Linked DNA regions of Homo sapiens: region 2 is linked to region 1. The links come from fine-mapping of genetic effects on gene expression. Tissue or cell type: pancreas. Region 1 holds a variant in brackets; the other region holds the start of a gene. All regions are shown on one strand. Distances are between the middles of the regions.

Region 1 (2,682 bases):
TGAGACCCTGTCTCAAAAACAAAAGAAACCCCCCAAAACAGAAACAACTAAAAAGGAAAATGGAGAGGAAGAAAGAAGACAGGAAAATGAAGCTCATATAATAAACTTTGCTTCTCAACTGCTATCTGAGTCAGAGATTTGACTCATCTATACAGTGAGTTCTTAAACTCTAGGTTCAGAAAATTGAAATTTGCCATTAAAAAACTTTAGAGATGAATTGATTTCCAATCTCAATGTTACTTGTTCTTTGTGGATAAGAGTTAGTATATTAGCTAGGAATTATACATTTCTACAGGACTTTGGACTTTATCTGTGTAAAATACGGATCTAGTTCTATTTCTCTATCTCCTGAGCATTCACTTCATGATAGGGACGATGTCAGATGGCGCACTCCTGTAACAGGCATTGCCAGCACATCTGCAGATAGAACCCCGGGAGGTCTGGAAGTGAATGACATTGCCTGAGTCCACGCAGAGCAGGTGCAAAGTTGGGGAACAGTCCACTAAACCACCATCACTACTGATACCAATTTCAAGTTCAGGCATCCCCAAGATCGCCCTCAGTTTCAATAATTCACTAGAGGAGTCACAGAGCTTACTAAAAGCGATTATATTAACAGCTACGGTTTATTACAGTGAAAGTCAACAGCTTAAAATCAGCCAAGGAAAGAGATGCACGGGGCAGAGAGTCCGGGAGAGTTCCAAAGGCAGAGCTTCCAGCTGTCGTCCCGCTGAGGAGTCATGCACAGTGTTAACTCCTCCTGGCAACAGTGTGTCCAGTATGCAGGGAGTACTGCCAACCACGGAAGCTCTCCAGAGCCTTGACTGGGGCTTTGTCATGTGGCTGACCTCAATCTCCAGCCCCTCTAGAGGTTGAGCTGATACCATGTTACCCAACCCCACCATAAATCACATTGTTGGACTCTCTGGCATGGCCCAGCACCCCCAGGTAAACAAAGAAGTTTTTATTAGACAGCACATTCCAAGGGCTTAGAGATGGCCTCCCAGGATCCAAGAGCAAAGGCCTGACTTCCCTGGGGCCAAGGTTAAATTCTTTACTACACAGCAGAATTTTATGTCTACTAATCCTATACTTGTCCCTTCGCCACAGCTGCCTGTTGGTCGTGCTGCAGGTGGATATCTCCTGCTAAGATAATACAGGGATTTAGAACCCTTTGCAGAAGTGCAGTCCTTTGCATTACGTGGCGCTCAGTGACTTATTTGACTTGCTATTTTTTGCCCAGTATCAATGTATAATTTACTGGTGATGTAACATACCTGTCCCCAAGAAAGAGTGAAGATTAATCCATCATTGGCTGAGGAAGCCACTCAAATGTTCTTTCCC[G/A]AGGTGTTCTGTTTACCAAACCTGGAAAAACAGGTTAATAATAAAACAACAATAATAAATCATTGCTATTAGGCTATACACTGATGTCATAGAAAGGGTTTGATAATGTCCCATGTTTGCCTCCATCTTCTGCAGAGTGGCATGTATCTGATACATGGGCCTTGAACACAGGTGGATCTGCACTGGGCCCAGTACTGAGACCCTCCACTCCGGGAAAGGAGTCTCGATAGCTCCTATTGTGCAGGGTAGCAGGGAAGCAGGCCTGATATTTCATGCTGTAGAGGGATTTTCTGCCGTCTCCAAGGGCACAAGGCAAACATAGGGAGAGTAGCTCTTAATTTGCTCTCAACAAAGGGGCTCTTGACCCACATAATGTAATTTCTCACGGAGAGCCTTTTTGAAGAAGACCTGTCTTTGAGTTAGGTCAACTCATTGTAGATTATGAGGCGTCTATGTAGGGCCTGTCAGACCTAGAGTAGCTGAAAGGAGCCTTTCCAGTGCAGCTCGTTCACTATGCAGAGTCCAAATAAACAGTTGCCTCTGAGTTGTTTGAAACCCTGGGCCTTAAAAGAGAGCTGCTTCTTTGAAGATGTTTTGCATCCAAGGGTGCTATTCTGAACATCATTTCCTGCCAAGATTTTCCCCACTGATTTACTCTCTGCCTCTTTCTCTTTGTACTCATGGAACAACAGAAAGGCATTTAAGAGGGGAACAAAAAAAGGACACCACTTCTGTGCAAAGCCGCGTGCTGATAACTTGATGGCTGGAAAATGCCTGTTTTATCCTGAAAATAGGAAACTGGTTCTAGGTCCAAGGCTTTTGTCTAACTCACTGTTAACGACAGGCTTGTTCTTCCTTTCAGTTAAATATGTGTTTTTCAGCGTTACCTAGTTACATCCGATCTACAGTTCACGCCTCTAGGTAAGTAACAGAATTATATTTGCTTGTGAACTAGTCTGTACAAAGGGGAGGCTGTTCTAACATGGGTGATAGCAACAAAACCGGGCTGTTTTCACCCAGCCATGGGGCAATCCAGGGCCAAGGTCACTGACCTTCATGCTCTCCCATCCCGTCACTGGTGAATGGCGATGACATTCATTTCCAAAAGCCTTGGGACCCACGTGTCATTTCAGGGCTGTTAAAAACCCACAAACTTTGCCTATAGGGAGTCCAACGCGGTGGTGATCTCACTGCAAACAACCTTTTCCCTGGCCTCCAATGTGACGCTATTTGACCTGGCTGATAGGATGCAGAAATGTGTCAACTCCTGCAAGTCCTCTGCTGAGGTCTGCCAGCTCTTGGGATCTCAGAGGCGGATCTTTAGAGGTAAGAGGGCAG
Region 2 (2,682 bases), 53 kb before region 1:
TATTTTCACGAGCATTTGGTTGTCAGACAGGGGCCCCCAACAGAACTCGCAAGAACCCCAAGGAGCTGCAACATTTGTTTCTGTTGCAATACTATTTGTTTCCGTTTGCGAATTATTGCAAACTCTGAATTAGGAGACCAGAATTAATAATATCACATGGTCATTCACAGATCAATCATTTCGTCTTCGGGTCTACCTTCAGAATCTTGAGCAAGTTATTTTCCCATTTGAGCCCCTCTTTCTTCACTTAATGAGGTGGCTTACAGTCCTAAACTTTAGACAGTTTATTATTCATTTACTGGGGAGGGAGAGGTTATGGAAACAAATGGAACTTTATTGACCAAGAAAATTTGTTTACATGAAATCTTTGAATCTTTCCCCATAGGTTTCCATTTAAAATTCTGTGTTCTCTGGGCATCATTTGGTTTAATTTGCGATCTGCAGTTCTTTTCCTGATGATGAGTTTGCCCTAGCCTGCCTGAATTCACAGTTTTCTTTTCCCTGCAGCCTGTTTGGGTGTCCTCGCGGTGACATCTCTGCAGAACTCTGGTGTGAGCCAAAGGCAGTGGTCGGATGGGAACGGCATCCAAGCTTGAGAGGGCGTGGGGGATACTCGGATTCTCGCGTTGGCCGGAGGGTGAGGTGTTAGGTTTGGCAAACACGAGCTCATCACCAGCCCTGGGGCCTGAAGAAGGGGAGGTGGGGGTGGGAGTGGGGACACTTCAAATCAATAACGGCGGTGACAGCGCGGGCTGGGTACCAGGGGACCGTTCCCTTTCTCTCTCCTATCAAAGCACTTGGGATAATCTAGTCTGGTGCTAATCACATTACCCAGGACCTGCTTTTCACCTACTTCTTGTGCGTTTAAGGAGTTGGGTAGGTGGTGCCCGATTCAGAAGACTCTGGAGCATGTGTGTGACAAAAGTTGCAGCACCGTGGCTCCGCTGACCTCATCCCGCTGTCCCGGGCCGGGCCGCTCTCCAGGCGCCCGGCCCCAGCCCCCTTCCTGCCCTCTCCCCGCCTCCGGGCCCGCCGCGCGGGGCCGGTGATGTCAACTGAGGAGGAGCCGCCCGCCAGCCAGCGACCCGCCCGGGCTAATTAGCATGTAGCGGCGCCGCGGGCCGCCTCCGCCCAGCCAGCCCGGCCCCCGGCAGCCCTCCCGCGGCTCCCGATAACTTTTGAGGCGGGGAGCGCGCTCGCAGCCTCACTCCGCTCACTTCCCCGGCCCCGCGCGGCCCCCGCCGCCCGCTGCCCGCTGCCCGCTGCCCTCGCCCCGCGCGCCGGGCATGTGAGCGCGGGCGGGCGCCGTCACCATGGCCTCGCCGCGCGCCTCGCGGTGGCCGCCGCCGCTCCTGCTGCTGTTGCTGCCGCTGCTGCTGCTGCCGCCGGCGGCCCCCGGGACGCGGGACCCGCCGCCTTCCCCGGCTCGCCGCGCGCTGAGCCTGGCGCCCCTCGCGGGAGCGGGGCTGGAGCTGCAGCTGGAGCGCCGCCCGGAGCGCGAGCCGCCGCCCACGCCGCCCCGGGAGCGCCGCGGGCCCGCGACCCCCGGCCCCAGCTACAGGGCCCCTGAGCCAGGCGCCGCGACACAGCGGGGACCCTCCGGCCGGGCCCCCAGAGGCGGGAGCGCGGGTGAGTGAGAGCCGGGAACCTGGCGCCTGGCCAGTCTGTGCTGGGGGCGTGGGCGCGCCCCGGGCTGCATCCCCAGCCGTAGGCCCCTCCGCGCGGCGCGACCCAGGGTGGGGGCTCCTCGCCCGGCGTGTGCGGGACCCTGAGGGTCGGCGGGTAGGGAGGGACGCTTTCGCAGTTGGCTGGACTGAGGGGTGTGACTATCCCGTTCTCCTCCAACCCTTTGGAAGAAAACTTATTTCCTATGGGGTACCCTGTATCTCTTCCACCCCACTTTAAAAAAAATGGAAAGGAAAGGGAAAAAGACTGCAAAGCATCTCTCCCACCTCCGATATCTGGCCAGCCGGTCCCCAGTTTCATTTTTTCCGCTATACAGAACTGGCCTCTCCAGGTACAGGGCTCGACTTTCTCATCTAAATAACTGATTTTTAAGGGGTTCTAGGACGGGATATTGTAAAGGACAAAGGATGTACGTAGTTTGAAACAAAACGCTCTACTGGTTCGACTTAAAAGCAAAGGAACGCGGTTGGGGTTGCATGGTTGAACCCCTGCAAGGCACAGGCTGATACAGGACCATCCCTGAGCCTCCTCCCTCCCCTTTCCTTTCCCAATGAACTGTTGCTCCGTGGTAGCCACCGCCTGTCCCACGCAGAGAGAAGGAACTGACCTCTTCTCCCTGCTACCTTTGTGTCCAGTTCTTTCTTATGATCTGGAAAAATATGCCACATACTGAGTGGAATTCTAACCATAATACCATTATGACCTTGGGACTGCTGTCTCTTTGCGCTCACTTTCTCCATCTGTGAAATGAAAGTGATGATCCCTGTTCCTTCTAGCCTCCTAGTGATGATGTGACAAAATGAAAGTAAAAATAAATGGAAAGTGCTTTGAACAAAGTCAGCAACGTGGTGGTGTTAGCCTTTGCCTTCCTGTGAGTGACACAGGGCATATGCTCTGTCCGGGCTATTCAAATAAGCTGGGTTGCTTGCAACACTGGACATTGATTTGGAGTTTCCCTGAAAGTTGAGTTTTTTGTCTGCATAATTGACAATTCAT

The links. PIP is the estimated chance that this variant, and not a neighbour inherited with it, causes the effect.
Region 2: it holds the start of HEG1, and the variant in region 1 is fine-mapped to the expression of HEG1 in pancreas (GTEx, PIP 0.94).

Annotation. Positions count from the first base shown.
Region 1 is chr3:125,001,840-125,004,521 of GRCh38, reverse strand. It overlaps HEG1 (heart development protein with EGF like domains 1), which reads left to right. Exons shown (of 17, transcript NM_020733.2): 10 at 2,207-2,265; 11 at 2,510-2,670. Among named protein-coding and RNA genes, the nearest start is that of HEG1, 53 kb to the left of the region's middle. RefSeq lists an enhancer at 1,992-2,682. The variant G/A (reference allele first, on the strand shown) is at 1,345.
Region 2 is chr3:125,054,522-125,057,203 of GRCh38, reverse strand. It overlaps HEG1 (heart development protein with EGF like domains 1), which reads left to right and starts at 1,207. Exons shown (of 17, transcript NM_020733.2): 1 at 1,207-1,629. The coding sequence starts at 1,314. RefSeq lists an enhancer at 644-693 and silencers at 944-1,323, 1,404-1,493, 1,554-1,713.